Homo sapiens: one gene and its partners. The protein of the gene in region 3 purifies or fractionates together with the protein of the main gene of each other region. This does not show direct contact. Each region holds a gene or a part of one and is shown on either strand. Other genes may lie near its edges.

What was found.
Region 1: the proteins of SLC38A1 (region 3) and SLC39A14 purify together in Homo sapiens (affinity purification with mass spectrometry; one large-scale study listed by BioGRID and IntAct). This does not show direct contact.
Region 2: the proteins of SLC38A1 (region 3) and CDS2 purify together in Homo sapiens (affinity purification with mass spectrometry; one large-scale study listed by BioGRID and IntAct). This does not show direct contact.
Region 4: the proteins of SLC38A1 (region 3) and MAIP1 purify together in Homo sapiens (affinity purification with mass spectrometry; one large-scale study listed by BioGRID and IntAct). This does not show direct contact.

The regions. Positions count from the first base shown.
Region 1 is NC_000008.11:22,411,399-22,415,777, reverse strand, and holds part of SLC39A14 (metal cation symporter ZIP14 isoform a precursor), read right to left. Parts: intron 3,742-4,379; coding exon 3,572-3,741; intron 999-3,571; coding exon 876-998; intron 10-875; coding exon 1-9. UniProt on the Homo sapiens protein: Electroneutral transporter of the plasma membrane mediating the cellular uptake of the divalent metal cations zinc, manganese and iron that are important for tissue homeostasis, metabolism, development and immunity.
Region 2 is NC_000020.11:5,171,129-5,175,507, reverse strand, and holds part of CDS2 (phosphatidate cytidylyltransferase 2), read right to left. Parts: intron 1,986-4,379; coding exon 1,849-1,985; intron 326-1,848; coding exon 229-325; intron 1-228. UniProt on the Homo sapiens protein: Catalyzes the conversion of phosphatidic acid (PA) to CDP-diacylglycerol (CDP-DAG), an essential intermediate in the synthesis of phosphatidylglycerol, cardiolipin and phosphatidylinositol.
Region 3 is NC_000012.12:46,181,539-46,186,538, forward strand, and holds the end of SLC38A1 (sodium-coupled neutral amino acid symporter 1), read right to left. Parts: 3' UTR 1,525-5,000; downstream 1-1,524. UniProt on the Homo sapiens protein: Symporter that cotransports short-chain neutral amino acids and sodium ions from the extraccellular to the intracellular side of the cell membrane. The transport is elctrogenic, pH dependent and driven by the Na(+) electrochemical gradient.
Region 4 is NC_000002.12:199,957,703-199,961,599, reverse strand, and holds part of MAIP1 (m-AAA protease-interacting protein 1, mitochondrial isoform 1 precursor), read right to left. Parts: intron 2,333-3,897; coding exon 2,261-2,332; intron 1,847-2,260; coding exon 1,720-1,846; intron 1-1,719. UniProt on the Homo sapiens protein: Promotes sorting of SMDT1/EMRE in mitochondria by ensuring its maturation.

The sequences.
Region 1 (4,379 bases), on a different chromosome or scaffold from region 3:
ATGATGATGCTGGAAGGGTGACAGGGAGGGATCAGCATGACATTCACCAAAACCACAAACCTGATTGAGCACCTGCTCCAAGGAAGTGCTTCACACACTGGAAGACCTCAGCCTTACCATCGAAGATGACACAAGCAGGTCACGTGCCCAGAAACATAGCAAAAGCTATTATATAAAGCCATGGTCGGGCACGGTGGCTCACACCTGTAATCCCAGCACTGTGGGAGGCCGAGGTGGGAGGACTGCTTGAGCTGAGAAGTTTGAGAGCAGCCTGGGCAACGAAGCGAGACCCCGTTTCTAATATCTATATATATAAATCTGCACCAAGTGCGAAGGACCTGGTGTCAGACAGATATCAAAGCTGTCTCCTCGGGGTACATGCTTATTCCACCAAGGCAGCCACTGCTCAAATATTTAGAGCTCCTCTTTTGCAATGGCTAATCTCACTCAATTCAGCAGCTATTTAGGGAATAACTGCATGCCAGCCACTAAAGATATCTTTTTGAAACTGTACTATAATAGTCCTGTTTCTCTGCAGCCTCATACTTCATACAGAATGAATGCATGGTATCAAGCTCTTCTCCCCATCCTGTAAAGATACAAATATATTAAGGAAATAATCTTAGAACAAAACAAAGGGGATAAACTACTGCTTAGTAGAAGGCACCCTGGCCAGATCTAGTTTCTGGTCTGGCCTCACTTCTGGCCAAATATCCTCAGGAGGTGAAATGGGATTGTCTCCTCAAGAAATTAGAGTTTCACGGAAATTGTGATATTGGGCTAAGACCATCACCACCACCACCACAATACATCAACATTGTTTGAGATGGGTGTTTTCCCTAGAAGAGCTTTCTTCAGCAACAATTGGGCCTCACCTCATTTTTCTGCTTAAGAAGAATCTTCAAGATCTTCTCTGTGAAAAAGAAAAGATAAAAGCCCCCAAACACCACTGCAGACTTGGAGACATAATAATCTTCCAGAGGGTTGAAACCAAATGCCTGTGGACCCAGGAAAAGAAAATGAGTTTTAAAGAAAATAAAGCATCTTTACTGATCCCCCTCTTATCTCTTAACTACTTCCTTGACTCTAGGAAAGGAGAGAGGCATAATGGAGTAACTCTGCCGTCTACCCATCCTCTTTCCAGCAAAAATCTAGTCCTTGGTGTTTCCCTGATGTGACATCACTAAACCTGCCAGGTTCTTCTCAAGCTTATTTGCTGATGCAAAAGACTGATCATCTGTAGAATTTTAATCCCAGAAAGAAAAACCTCCGATATGGTTTTCCACTTTTGATTTATCTTGGTGCTTTGCTATGAAGGCATTCTCTGCCAATAGATTTCATATTGAAGGAGCAGACACTTGTATTTATTTTCATCTTATCTAGTGTTCCTGGCTGACCTGCCTGTAAACACAAAGGGAGATGGTGTAATTATACTTTCTAAAACGGGAAACCCATTTCCCAGTTAAGTAATAAGAACTGCAGCGTTTTCCTAACCGCAGACCTCCCAGTGACCACAGAACCAAGAAAGTGGACTGTGTTATTGCGAGCGTCAATTTTTGGGTTTTGTTTTGAGTCCTTTCTGAAACTGTCACTTATCAAAGAGGGAGGGGAGAATCCACTGGGAAGAGGACAGGAGTAGAAATCAAGAGAATTCTGTCCTAGGGTAAGCTCCTGATTTATGGTGGGTTCTTGTGAATGTGTCTAATGACCTGGCCGGGCACGGTGGCTCATGCACTTTAAAGGACCGAGGTGGGTGGATCACTTGAGGCCAGGAGTTTTGAGACCAGCCTGGCCAACATGGCGAAACCCCAACTCTACTAAAAAAAAAAATACAAAAATTAGCTGGGCCTGGTGGCACACCTGTAATCCCAGCTACTCGGGAGTGTGAGGCAGGAGAATGGCTTGAACCCAGGAGGCAGAGATTGCAGTGAGCCGAGATGGCACCACTGCACTCCAGTCTGGGTGACAGAGTGAGACTGTCTCAAAAACAAACAAAAAAAAGTATCTAACGACTTGCTCCTATTTTATTCTTAAATTTTTTTGTGGGTACATAGGAAGTATATATATTTACCGGGTTGTTCCTCCATTTTCTGATGGGAAACGGGCCTTGAATAAACTTCAGCCCTCTCATGAATTGGTCCAAAATAAAAGTTGATCCCAACTTCAAGGAACTCTGGGCTGTTTGTTGCCTTTATGTTTTAAACAGGCCAAATTGAATCACCACCCTCCAGGGAAACAACACTTTCATGTTGACTTTCCAGGGGAGTCGAATCATCTTGGGGGAAAAGTGAAGTGAAAATAGGCAACGAACACTTCTCTGCAAAAAGCCACAAAGGATGGTGAATACAGAATCATGGGGTTGAGCTTCAGAAATCCCAAAAGCTGGGTTCTCGACTCAGGGATATGCGCTCTTGTGCAGGTCAGATTCCAACGTGGTAAAACGTTACTTGTTCTATCGATGCCATGGAGTTAACCTAAGGATCCACTAGGAGGGAGCCAACTGACATTTCAGAAAACACCAAGTGTTGTAAGAGGCGCATGCAGTCATCTCTGCTTCAACTGCGGCTCTGTCCAGGCCTGCGAGACCACCCACAGGGAGACGTCCTGTGCTTATTGTAATTAATGGGTCTGCTGAGGGGATTACACCAAATTAGATGAACCATCAGCTCCTTCTTTTGTGGCAAGTTTTCTCATGAACTTATTAGGCAAAGGTACCATCAAGGTATATAAAACCAGACATTGTTTGACTTGCATTGCCTTTGCCCCAAAACTCCCTATGGACAATCTTTTTACTGAGAACTGTGGGTTCTGATGATGTGGGAGTTTGTTTGTTTGTTTTGAGACGGAGTCTCACTCCCGTCACCCAGGCTGGAGTGCAGTGGTGCAATCTCGGCTCACTGCAGCCTCCATCTCCTGGGTTCAAGTGATTCTTGTGCCTCCCGAATAGCTGGGATTACAGGCGTGCGCTACCACGTCTGGCTAATTTTTGTGTTTTTAGTATAGACGGGGTTTCACCATGTTGGCCAGGCTGGTCTTGAACTCCTGACTTCAAACGATCCACCTGCCTCAGCCTCCCAAAGTGCTGGGAATATAGGTGTGAGCCACTGCACCCGGCTGATGATGTTTTTTAAACTTCTCTGCACCCAAAGCCTTAATCTGAGCACCACAACTAAGCCAGAGTGAGCTCGCTACACTGCATCTTTTCACCCCACATCAGACAGCACTTTCCGCACCAGGCACTCAGTGCTGCAGCAGACTCGCTCGTTCCACCCTCACAACATCATCCTGAGGCCGGTCTATTGCTCTCCCCATTTCACATCTGAAGAAACAGAGGCAGTGTGAGGTCAGTGGTGTGCCTGGGGTTACGGAACCTACTGATAGCAGAGCTGAGATTTGAACCCAGCTCTTCAGCCTATGCTGGGCTGCCTCTCCTAGTTCACGCCTAAGTTCTAGCTTCGCTTTCCAAAAGGAAAGGGCCTCCAGGTGCCCTCTCTATGCCTTCTATCCAAACGGAGGTCCTCCCACTGTGCCCGCCGGCATGCTCCGGGGTGAAGGCCCTGGCTTGCCATACCTCCGGGATGAGCTGGAAGAGGGCGTTGGAGTAGAGGGTTCCAATCGCCAGAGCTATGAAGTAGAGCAGCAGCCTCTTGTAAAAGGTCTTCTTCATGAAGGGCACCACGCTGGCCCCCAGGAGGGAGCAGAGGGAGATGACGGTCACACAGAGGAGACCGTATCCCCACACTGCCGTGCGGAGGGAGGGCCAGCCCCACCCAGGGCAGGGAGAGAAGGCACATGCCCCATTGCACAGCAACCACCATTTAGCGGGAGGAAGGTGGAGCAGATAGGGAGGTCGCAAGGAAAAGTTTGGTGGATATTAACGGAACAAAAAAGAAAAATCAGAGAGAGACAAGTAGGGAGGGAGAGAGAAATAGAAAATTTGTTAGTGATTCACATCTGATGAAATTTCCTTCAATCAGTTCAGAAGAAAGAGGAATTCAAGGTGGCCTTGGAACCCTGTGACTTCTGCCCCTGTGGCCACTGGTGGCCCCAAATCGTTCCTGCCAGTGGTGTGACTGGCAGGGCAGGGTGCTGCCTCGTCACACACCCAAGGTCTGCCCAGACCTATCACAGAGGCTGTCCAGGACAGACTTTGGACTCGAGGGCTCTCTTTATAGGACATGCAAGCAGGTGGAAAGAGGCTGATCACTCTGCTGCTGCGTTTGCTTTTGCATGTCCAATTCACACGGCGCAGGCTCGGGTGACACCACGACCACTTGGTTTGCTTTGTGCAAGACACAACCAAGCCAGATGTGCAGGGCAGAAGGGATGGAGAACGATTAATTCATGCCCAATGCCCATAAAATTCAGTGTCTTAACCT
Region 2 (4,379 bases), on a different chromosome or scaffold from region 3:
AAAGAAAAGACACTGAGACATCTTCAACCATAAACAACCAGCCTACACCAATGACCCTCCAGGTGGCTACTGAGAAGTGGGAAGTCACAGATGTTCTATGGCAGAGGTTTTCTGAGAAGCCTGGACCCCCGTCAATTCCCACAACCAACCCAACACCTCGCACTTAAGACAACCGGGCCTGCAGCAAAAACTGAAGGGAAAACTAAAATAGTGTGAAATGGCACTTACGATTATCATCAAAACCATTGGTCCCAGGTAAATGATGATGAAGAAAAATGCAATCATGGCCAAAGTCAGGATGCCTCTCACCCACCAGTTCTTCCATCTAGGTCAGAGAGCAGGGGAAGGAGAAAACACCAGTTAGGAGCCCAGAAAAAAACCAATGCACAAACTCAAGGGATATGGATCTTCCTGAGATGAGGGCCCTGAGCTCAGTCCTTTCCAGATTCACCGTGACGGAGGCACCAGCCACATGCTGGCAGGAGCAGGACCACTAGTACCAATGCCTAAGTCACAACCAAACTTGGCAAAAAATAAACCTAGCTTATATCTTAAAGAAGGTATCAGGCAAAACACAAACAAACAAAAAAACCAAGGGAAATGTAGTGCCCTCTGCTTCTGTATCCACTTGGATGGTTTCTACAGCTGACTATCTGAAGAAAAAAATATTTTTTTCCAGCAGCAGGATCCTACACTGCACTGCCCTGAATAATTATGGGAATAATAGTAACATTATGCAATGATAATAACAGCTACCATAAATATGCATAATTTTTTTTTTTTTTTTGAGACAGAGTTTCCTCTGTAGCCCAGGTTGGAGTGCAGTGGCACAATCTCAGCTCACTGCAAGCTCCGCCCAGGTTCATGCCATTCTCTTGCCTCAGCCTCCCGAGTAGCTGGGACTACAGGCGCCTGCCACCACACCCAGCTAATTTTTTTGTATTTTTAGTAGAGACGGGGTTTCACCATGGTCTCGATCTCCTGACCTCCTGATCCACCCGCCTCGGCCTCCCAAAGTGCTGGAATTACAGGCGTGAGCCACCATACCCGGCCTGAGTAAGGTAATTTTATGAGGACTTTACATATATTAACTCCTTCAATCCTCAACACACTTCGCTTTTACAGATGAGGAAATGGAGGCACAGGTCAAACAGCTGGCAAACAGTAAAGCTGGGATCTGAATCCAAGGGTCTGGCTGCAAAGTCCACGCCCTTAACCACTGCACAATTCAGACTCCCAAGGGGACAGTTGGAGGCACACATAGGAACACTGAGATAATGCTTTGGGGTCTTATAATGTGTTTTTGATCTACTCACATAGCTGTGTTAAAAGAACCAGGTTCTCAAGGGCCAAAAGTTTTAACACTAGATTCACCTAGGTTAAGATGTTTCCCAGTTCTTCCTGGAGAATTTAAGGAACTGTTCACAAAGGATGTGAGAGAAACTAAACTCTGAACTGGAAACGTGGACTCCTCAGTGAAAAGCAGCCTGCCCATTAATCGCAAACCCAAGGCTGGTTTCCTGTGCTGTGCAGTGTCAGCTGACCTCACCCACCTCCATCCCTCCTGTCCCCTCTTCCTCTTTGAACTGCACTTCCTAGTCCAGTCTGAAGCACCCTTCCGGGGCCAGATCCTTCCAGCCTTGGTTGCCCTCCCCTCCTGGTCACTGTGCTCACTGCCACTGCTAAGCACTAGATTACACTCAATGGAGCCTGGAGCAGTGGCATGGGAGGCTGAGGCAAGACAGCGGGCCTGCTCTGCAAGACCACGGGCTCTCTGCAGGCTCTTCCAGGGCACTTGGACATGGTGCAAAGCCCCCAACAAGCACCTGCATCATTAAGCCAGGTTACCTTGAAGACAAGTTGGAAAGGGCCCTATTGAGGACCTCCGGGGTATCATCTGCAGAGACTGGCAGGGGTGCGGATTCTGCCCGGCTCTCACTGTCCGATGCAGTCTCTCCATCTACCTTTGCTTCTGACTCTGACTCCTAAGTGGCAGAAATACAGAAGAGAAAAAGGTCAAAAGTGCCGAGTAGACCATTGAGAAGTCTATGCCTGTCATGAGAGATCTGTGGGGAAAGACTCCAAACAGGGCCTAAGAACCTGGCACAGTCAGGTGATGGGACTGACAGGACTAGCAGCAATCCTGACACTGTTGTGACATGTGCCAAGGTGGCCAGCCACACTCTGCTGGAAGAGAGGTGTGCATCTGCACCGCGTACCATCTGCTTAACCGCAGAGGGCAGATCCAAAAGAGAGAGAACATGGCTCCTTTGTATCCAAAGAATGCAAAAGGGAGGCTGGGACCGGTTTTAACAGGAGGTTATCCCTGAGCCTGCTAGGGCAGCCAATGGCACTGACCAGGCTCTCTCAGGGGAAGCCAGGTGGTGAGGCTGTTGCCCCTGTAGACCTGTTAATGTCAACATGTCCCAAGTCCAGAGTGTTATTTCCGGACTTCACTAGAGCACTCTGTGAGGAGGTCAATCACAGTCAGTGTGGACAACGAACCAGACAGCCTACTCCAGACAACGCTCGAGCCAGGACTGGTGCACCTCAGTCCTTTCCCTGCCACCAGGCCCTGGGTGACAAAAGACCCACAGGAAGTCACCCTGCTCCCAGCCTGGGTGAGGGAACCAGAGCCATGCCAGCAGCAAGCTCTTTACCCAAAGTATCAAGGGACAGGCTATTCTGAATCCTAGGAACCATCCTACCACTCAAGTATTTTCTTTCATAGGGGAATTCAGAATAGTTGCTATGAGAAGAGGTGGAGGAGAAAGTAAATCACTTAGAGTAACAACACTACTTAGTATCTGTATAGCCCTGCAAGGTCTGAAGAGCCTTTCCCATGCAAGCTTCAGAGCAGTACTGGGAGGAAGGGAAGGGACAGGAGAAGCCCCATTTACAAATAAGAAACGGGATCTGGGAAGTTCAATGCGTGGCCCAATGTCTCATATTAACCCAGGTCCTCTGACTTCCCTGATGACTGATGAATACACGGAATTGTGACTGTCTCACATGTTCACTGGCCACTTGGTATCTTCTGTCAAGTGTCTGTCAAATCACTGGCTAGTTTTTCTACGGAGTTTTCTGCCTTCCTTTTTTTATTGATTTGTAGTGGTTTATGTGCTCCAGATTTGAGTACTTTGTGTTACTAATATGTTCTCTCAGACTGCTCTAACCCCCACCTTCACCTCAGGCGAGGTTAGACACCCCAGTGATTTGCTCTCTTAACACTAGAACCTTCTCCCTCTCAGCGCTGACCACAACGGGGACTTTTGTAAATGTCTCCTTGGCTGACGACAAACTCCTTAAAGACAAGAACATAACTTCTTGTTCTCATTATCCCCATGCACGGCACACAGCAAAACACTTACTAATGGATGGAAGAAGAGAAGAATTAGGTCCAGGTGTGTAAAGAAAAACCCAGCCCCTGCCCTCAGGGAGACAGCTCTTTCTAAATTAATTTACAACTGTGACAAGACAGAGGGCCTTAACTAGTGCAGATGAGCAAAACAGAAAAACAAAACAGATTAGCAACACAGAGGGCCTCGCCTAGTGCAGACTGCTGATAAAAAAGAGACAGCTGGCTTTGGTAAAGGCCCAATAAAGACGGCCTCATCATTAGGATCCAAGGGAGAGAGCCACAGCTTCTGAAGACACAGACTGCTCCCTACTCTGCCACAGTCGAGACAGGTGGCTCTGGATAAGTCACCCAAGTGCCTCTGTACTTTGGCGTCTTCACCTTATATAAGGTAAGGACCCTCCTTCCCATGGGGATTCCTTGAAGCGACATAACCAAACTCTCACCCAGGGCTGTGTCCCAGTACACCACTCCAGAGTTTCTGAAACACAGTAAGGTCTCCAGAGTCGTCCCTCTCCAGGGAGACTAAATGAAGACAAAGCATTCACAACAGCTGTCCAATCTTTATTTCAACATTGACACCCACACACCATCGGCAACCACCAGTTGCCAGTAATATTACGGTAATCATTGCGAGTTACAAGGTAATGATGCTGCCTGATCACCTGGCTTTGACCTCTAAAACCTCGGGGCTTCAAAATGCTAGCACCTGGACCCCACTGAGGCTCCCACAGATGCATTCAGGAGCCTCTAGAAGCTGCAGGGACTGCGCTCCAGAGCAGCAGGGGAGAGGGCACTCACACACAGAAAGCCCGGCACAAGGTTATTTTTAACTTATCCATCCTGTTGTCAAGGAGACTCACAAAGGCTGCTAGTTCCCCAGGCAGGGAAGGACAGGAACGGAACCCAGGCAGCGTCCTGCGAGGGAGGAGCAGGCAGCTCCAGCTCCGTGCTAAGAGCCTCTCTGGACCTTCCGTTAGCCCAGCACTGCATCCTGCAACACTGTCAGACCTGACTCCTT
Region 3 (5,000 bases):
TGCAAGGGGGTTGCCAGAGGAGATTGACATTTGAGTCAGTGGACTGGGAGAGGAAGACCCATCCTCAATGGGGGTGGGCACCATCCAATAAGCTGCCAGCATGGCTAGAACAAAGCAGGTGGAAGAAGACGGGCTAAGCTGGCTTGCTGAGTCTTCTGGTGTTCATCTTTCTCCCATGCTGGGTGCTTCCTTCTATTCCTCCTGCCTTTGGACATCAGACTCTAGGTTCTTTGGCTTTTGGACTCTGGGACTTACACCAGGGGTTTGTTGGGGGCTCTCTGGCCTTTGGCCACAGACTGAAGGCTGCACTGTCAGCTTACCTACTTTTGAGGCTTTTGGACTCGGACTGAGCCACTACTGGCTTCTTTCTTCCCCAGTTTGCAGACGGCCTATTGTGAGACTTCGCCTTGTGATCATGTGAGCCAACTCTCCCTAATAAACTCTCTTTCATATATACATATATCCTATTAATTCTGTCCCTCTGGAGAGCCCTAATACAAGCCCATAGTTAATTCCATGGGAAAGGCAGAGAATAGCTCTTCCCTGACAATTCTGTGTAAAAAAGGACGGAATGGAACAGTATTAGCAAATACTCATGGAGGGAGAGTAGAAGGAAGAAGCCAGAACTATCAAAGGCACTGCAGGACTGGCCCTTTCAATTTGGAACAAAATCTGCTCAGATTCTCAATAGTCTTTTAACTTTTACCACTGCTTGAGTTTAAAAGTGCTAATTACTCACTCACACCCTTTGCCCTTGGGGTTTTGATCAATTAAGAAGTAGGCATAGGAAGCATGTAAGGATAAAAATATCAGCTTTATTCCTAACGAAGTTATATTGGAGAACATGACTTGGACTCCCGTACCCCAGGTTTCTACTTTGAGTTTTGCGTGTGTGCCACCGAGGCCCTACAGAATGCACTGCTGTCACCTGGGTAGGCCAGAAGAGTTCATCAAGGGGGTCTTCATTCCCAGCCACACCGTAAAAGACCCAGGCTATTCCTGTGCTAGCCCTGTCCACAAGAAGAACTTGGATATCAGACTTTGGCCATCTTGCTGGTCTGGTAAAGCCTTTCTAAGATGCTGGAGAGGAGTTGGTGATGGATAAAAAGACAAGGCTGCACTAGCTTTGACCCAATAGTTACTGAGAAATGAAGTGTTGATAGAATTTCTTCTTTTATAGGTGGCAGCAATGTGGGTAGAGGAAGACTCAACTCCTTCCTACAACACAGGGCAGAAATTAATACTTATAAAGGTAAACTTGACTTAAAAAAGAAAATATTATGGTGAATCTACTCTGATTATGAAGAATGGAGAAATGTGGTATATGTTTCAGACCAGATAGATTTCTATCAGAAGTATTTTTAAAAATATTTACGTTAGGGTGCTTAAATATATAACCTTCTATGATCTAGAACACTGACAAATATGTATAACCCTTCTCCAGCAATCCTGAATAGTGTATATAGTACACAACTGCCCCATTTTAGTATTGCATTGCAAAAGAACAAACACAACATTTTTAAATACTTTTAGTTCACATTTTTTAATGTTTAAAAACTATGTTAACAGAGCAGTTATAGAACAGAACTTCTTATATTTCTTTATTTACACCACACTCTGAAAAAAAAAACCCAGTTCTATTTGATTAACTATGAATAGCAAAGTTTTGTGACTTGTGACTCACTTAAATCACCCATCTGAAATTCATTTACAAGGTTTTTACATTAATAAAACAGTAGTGTGGTACATGTATTGGACTCAGATGAAGTCTAAAGTACACTGGACTCTAGAGAGTGGATTACATACCAACGACCAAGATTCAAGTGTTTGGGGAAAAAAATACCTTAGACAGTCTATGTTGGCGTCAACACTAAAATAAAAGGCAAACATGCAGGACTTTCAAAGCTTGATTAGATAATGGTTCTTTGTTTTCTTTCCTTCAAATTTGTGCTCATAATTAATATTCAGGTTCCCTCTCCCCGCTTTCATAGATCCCAAAGTTTGAGAAATGCAGCAATTCAATTGTGAAAAAAACATTCTTCTCCCCAGCTTCTGTTTTCATATGTACTGTGTAGTGGTATCAGTGTTAAAAATGGAAGATCATTATGAAGAAACAATTTGTCATTTGGGTATATCTGTTTCTATAGGACAAGGATTTGTGTCTAAATATTCCTTACTTGTATCTCAGAGGACTATCTGTTAAATAATTGATCTTAATGCCAGCATAAGAAATCAAGGGAACTATTTCTCAGACATTTCTTTCTCTAAATTAAGTAGGGTTTCAGGTTCCAAGTTTACATTGAGAGAACTATGTTACCTGGGAGAGAATGTAAATTTTTCTAATTCCCAAACAAAACCACTAATTTCTAGGAAACATTTATTGTTTATATGCAGATCCTAGAGACTTCTATTTCAGTGCAGATCAACAACTTCAAAAATATACAGCCTCCTATTTATTTACAATAATATTTACATACAAATGAAGTATTTCCTGCAATAAGCCTCAGCTGCATAGATTCTTCCTTTAAAAACGTAAATTTGAGCCTGTATACAGATGGGCCCAGTTTCATAGCCCTTCCTTAGATAAAAGCCTAAAGAAGGAAAATGTCTGCACCTTGTGAACTTTACATATTTTGCAAGAACTTTCTCTTTGAGATTTAGTGATAGTTTTTAGTTGTTAGACACCCCACCTTCAGCTTGTACCTGAAAGCTTTATCTCGTTATAAATAATTCACTGTAATTTAGGGGAAGTATGTCCTGTTGCTAAAGGATTCTCAAACCTGCCATCCCCAAGGAAAATCATGTATTAGTATTGCTAAATGATGGTCTGTATATTCTTTGTTTTGAAGGTGGCTAGATGTTTGCTGTAAACTTGAATGGGAGAATTATATTCTTAAAGTTTACACCCCCTATAAGCCTAAAGCCATTTAAATTGATAAACTGAGAGAGACTAATAGATTTTGCTCTAAGGTATAAAATCCATTATCTGATCATATTCCTGACCTCCCCCCGACTCCAACTAAATGTGCCATAGTCCAACACTGTGCCTCACTGAATTGGAACTCAGTATTTCATTCTTTTGAGAGCAGTTTGTAGCTCCTTAAGCAGAGCAGACCTTTCAGTAGAGAATTCGCTTTAAAAGGAGGACAGGATTATCACCACACGATTAACACAAACACTGGAGAACTTCTGACACAAATTCAGTATTTCTTCTAAGTCTGCATTTACAAAGGGTCTTTTATTTTAATTTCTTTCACAACTGCCTCGCCCCAACCAAAGCCTCACTTTCATTTCCTCACAGCTTTAAAAAATAAAATATTATCATGCCTCAGCCCGAGGTAACACCGAGTGCAGGCAGCCTGTGTTTAGGAATTTGCACCTGCGCTGCTATTTTCAACGAGAAGGGGATAACCAGGTGGCAGCGCTGGATTCACTCACTTTCTTGCCATTGCAGAGACCCCTGCCGCCAGGCTCCTTTCCTCCCCTCCCTAAAGCCTGGCTCCTGTATGTTGCACCATGAGTCCTAGGAATCATCTGGTGAGGGAGGACTAATGGGAAGTAAAAGGGAGACTCATTGGCTTAGGGTGGTTCTCAAACTTGATGCGCTTTAGAATCATTTGCTGAGTCCCTCCCTGAGAGCTTCTGACTTCACCATGTCTGGGAGGGGGCTGAGAATCTGCATTCTAATGAGGTCCCCGATGATGCTGATGCTACTGGTCTAGGGGCCACACTTTGAGAACCACTGGCTTAGAGGCATGAATCAAGCTCTAGAAAGCAGTCAGTTCCAGGGTAATAGTCTTAGGTGCTCGCCGAAGCACTGAGGAATCTTACCACAACCCTGTGTCCACCACAAGCCCTATCACCATCACCCATCTGGGTGCTTCTTTTTCTCAACAGGGTCTGTAACTGTAAAAAAGGAAAGTGGGTGGAGAGGTTTTTTTTTCCCCCTTTTTTCTTGTTTTCTAACCTCCCAGCTTATTCCTGGAGAGTTAAAACACAGTTACTAGCACTAAAAACATTAAAAGTGCTGCGCGCTGGCCTCAATGACTGGTACATTGGAGAAGCTATGCAGCAGCATCCTTTTCTGTGGTGGGCAGGGCAGGAGATGAACCATAGGAGCCAAAAGTCAGACAAACAGAAGAAGGCACACCAAGCCTGAACCCTCCGGACAACAGCAGAGTTACCAGCTGAGGGATGTCCCTGGAGGTTTCTGACCCATGAGAGGCCCCCTCACCCTCCTTCACCCTCCTCCTACCACCAAGCTCTCCAGCAGTCATGGACTTATTCCTCCCCGTTTTTACTGGACACCATGTTTCAGGCCAATCTGGTCACCTGTAGTCTGGTGGCATCTCTACCCCTACTGTCCAGTAGGTGGGATGTGGCTGGGATGGACAGTCCAGATTCTACTAACAGGCAACTCTGAACAAACACCCTCCCTGGAAACAATATTATATTTGATGGTTAGATTCTTTAGCAAACCTATTACATTATTCGATGTCAGCTAACCTATTGGTTTGATCATCTTTTCCAGCTGCTCTAGGGGCCTAACCACCATGGATAACCTGGTCTCTAAAGGAAAATACATTCCAGGTTGCAAACAACCAACTGACAACCTTTTGGAATATGATCTCCTTATACACTGGGGCTGCCTGTGCCTAAACACAGTAGATTTCCCTCCTGTGCGTATTTCATCAGCCCCACTTCCAATAAGTAACATTAAGTAAATTAGGGATTGACAGTATTCTGTGTTACAATAACTAGAGAACAGTTCTAAGTCCAAAGTGTGGAACTGGCACTGTTCACTAGTATAGAGATCCTACCTACCAAAGGAAAACGTGCTGCTCCCCATGCCTAGGGTATAGTATTCTTTAATCTACTAATTTAGCAGAAAAACTTCCATAGCACTTGACTGTGCTGTTTAAATTCGACCTAACATCTGTGATACATGTATTTTTGGCTACCAATTAACTATTCTGAATAAGAATAAGAGCAGTATACTT
Region 4 (3,897 bases), on a different chromosome or scaffold from region 3:
TAGGGTTTATGGCATACTTGCCCTCTTCTCTGTATCTCAGTAATAAAACTACTACTTAACTGAGCACGTACTTTACTAAGTATACTACATGGATTATTTTCAATTAGTGGCATTTTCTTTTTCTTTCTCTTTTTTTGACACAGAGTCTCACTCTGTCACCCGGGCTGGGGTGCAGTGGCGCAGTATCGGCTCACTGCAACTTCCGCCTCCCAGGCTCAAGCGATCCTCCCACCTCAGCCTCCTAAGTAGATGGGACCACAGGCACGCACCACCATGCCCGGCTATTTTTTCATATTTTCAGTAGAGACTGGGTCTTGCCATGTTGCCCAGGCTGGTCTTGAACTCTTGAGCTCAAGTGATCCACCTGCCTCAGCCTCCCAAAATGCTAGGATTACAAGTGTGAGCCACCACATCTGGCCAGGCATTTTCTAAGATTATAATAATCTCCTGACAGATACCTGTTGTCAAACCAAAAATGAGGAGAAAAAAAATATTTTTTGCTGCTCAGTAACTATCTTAACTTCAACTGCCAGAAAGAGTAAAGGCTTCCTATTCTACCCAATTCACCTTACTGTGCCTGGTGATTCTGACAAACTCCTGATGCAAAAATTAGTTAGTGACCATGGTGCTGAGATGCAATTTGAAATATTAGGGAAGCGGAAAATATTTATCACTAAAAATATCTTTACAAATATTTCAAAATAATGTGTGCATGAAAAATTTTATCATCACTAAGAGTCTTTTTCTTCCATCTTGGGAAGTGTATAAGCAGAGGCTCCATTTCCTGTGTGGCTGGCACATAATACATATGCAAATAGAGTCATCCCTCAAAATCCACGGAGGATTGGTTCCAGGACCCCCCTGTGGATACCAAAATCCACAGATGCTCAAGTCCTTTATATAAAATGGTGTAGTATTTGCATAACACACATCCTCCAGTATACTTTAAATCATCTCTAGATTATTTATAATACCTAACACAATGTAAATGCTAATGTAAATAGTTGTTATACTGTATTATTGAGGAATAATGACAAGAAAAAAACTGCACATGTTCAAGTACAGATGCAACTATTTTTTTTTAATATTTTTTACCCTAGATTGGTTAAATCTGTGGATGCGAAACCCCCAGATACAGAGGGCCAACTTTGTATGTATCAGGAACAAACAGTGAATTATCAGGAATGCTATAGGGAAAATGTATGCCTCAGACAAGAAGAACCAGATAACCACTAAATTTCCTACCAACTTTTTTCATTATTCTCAAATAGATCCAATTTGGGAGTTCTGCAGTTAACCTTTTCAAATTGTCTTTAGCTGACAATATCTAATTTGATTTTCTTTTACCCCTCATTCCTTCCATATAAAGTGCAGCTTTAAAATACTCAATTGTTTCCTTCAAGTTAGGAAATCTGAAACATAAATATTTTCTATTTGAGACGTGGGAGCCACTCAAACTATTTTCATCAATGTAAGTGATGATGTTCTCTACTGTGAATAAAATAGTAGCAGAAAAAAGTTCTAGATAGAAAGGCTTAAGAAATGATGACCATATCTCAACTCTTTCAGAAGTAGGTCTTTAAAGAATGGATATAACATTTTCTTTGAAGTTCTATAAATACTTGTCCTGACAAAACTCTACTATTTTGTGATTATCCACTAGTTTAGCTTATCTGGACAATTATGGATCATTTCAAGTTGACTATGCTCTGGTATTACCTTTCTCATCATAGTAAATGGAGATGTCTCCTGTTGATGTAAATACAATTTCATCTATGTTAGCAGCAAGGGCATTTTTATGGTTGTCAGGTAGTGAAGTAACCTTTTCTTTCAATGCATGTAGCACCTAAGTTTGAAAAAAGCAAGCCATTAGTTCACTGATACAATTTTTGAAAACTTTCAAAAAGTGATCTTTATCATGGAATACATTTTTCCAAACCTATTTTTAAATTTACTACCGTATTTACTCATCCTCAAAAGCAAGGCTGAAATGTATCTCATTATTCAAGTAGGTAATTCCTAACAGAACATTCCATATAAGAGCAATTGGAAGACATCATGATTACTTCATTATGCCTTAAGTGGCAGGAGTTATTCCATGCTTTTATATGACCCAAAGTACCCATAAGAACAGATACACAGACTCTACTTTGGATGCTGGCACACACACTATTTTTAAGCATAAATAAGGAAAATGTGCATCATTCTATTGCAAGAGAATAGCATTTATTTTTAAAGCAAAATGTAAAATATACTTTACCTCTTTGGCCACAAGTTCTTCCAACAGATCAAATTTACACTGTGACAGCAACTTGGATACATGAGCAAAAGCCTTGAAAAAAATATTAAGGGAAGTGTGGGGATTATTATTTCAAAATACCATACCATGTTCATATTTAAATGGCTAAGTGTAATACAGACTATTTTATGGTAATAGTGATAAACAACATCAAATATTAATTTATCAAGGCATGACTCTTGGTTGACTTTTCATATATGGCCTTCCCACATATATAGCAGTAAGTGACTTGACCTTTAATTCTGGATCCACTCTCAGGACCGGGAAATGATAGTGTGTGGTGTACAATCTAGATGTCTCAATAAAAATCCTCCTTTATATTTCTTTTTAAAATGATGAAGTAAACAATCATTTGGCAGTTATATGACCTACCTCTTAATCATGCATAGATAGCAGTTGGAAAGGAGAACAGTCGAGACTGCATTGGGAGTCTGGAAATCTGGGCTGTAGTCTGAATCTCAGTATGGGAGATAATGTAGGTTTGGGAAAGTGGGAGAGAAGGTCATTAGTTTATGTGGTCTAAAACAGTAGATCCTAACTTTGAAGTATGAAATTCCATTTTCAAGGAGGGAAAAACCCAACTGCAATTCTCCTCACTGCTAGCAATGAGAAAGCAAACTGTGAGTTAAGATCCTACCTGTCTTCAGGGAACTTTCAGTCTACATGGGAAAAGGACAAGTAAACTGACAAGTTGAAGAATTTTGACAGGGATAAGAACAGGATGACTTGGGAGCATACAGAAGAGCCTTCTAACCCAATCTGGGAGGATCAGAGAGGGCTTCCTAAAGGAAGAAACATCTAAGCTGAAATCTAGGCTGCCAGAGGATGCACAGGCATGTCAGATATGGCATGTCAGAGAATACTGCCTAACTGTTATAGGATGAATTGTGCTCTCCTTCCCCGAAAATTTATGCTGAAGCTCTAACCCCCAGAACCTTGAAATGTGACTATATTTGGAGATAAAGCCTTAAAGAGATGATTAAGTTAAATGAGACCATCAGGGTGGGCCAAAATCCAATCTGACTGGCATCCTTATAAGAGGAGCAAATGTGGAGTAAGAGCCACCAGGAGCACGCATGCACAGGGAGGACCATGCAAGGACACAGCAAGAAGACGGCCATCTGTAAGCTGAGAGAGGCCTCAGGAGAAAACAACCCCTCCGACACCTTGATACTGAAATTCAGGTTGTTTGCTTTATATAAGCAACAATGCTTACAGGCTGGCTGATGAATGGGGTGGAAATACTGCTTAATAGCAAGGAAGGAGGTGAAAATAGCTAACAGCTGGAGGACCACTAGGACTGGAGTGACCCCAAAAATGCTGCATGCTCCTCTGTGTGTTCAGAGGAAACAAGTACTGAGGCCTGATGCCTGCCCATGGTGGGGAGATGATTTCCATTCCTTACTGAAACATAAATGAACTGGTACCATCATATGTGTTATGAGGTGGACAAGCTCATATATCATCAGTGGGCATTGTACAGAACAGTAGGATCAATACAACTTACCACTGCATGGACAAAAGACTTTGAGAACTGACAAGAGCAGAGGTTTATCAATTATAATGCTGAGTTAAGCATCTTAATCAAGTTTGTTCTT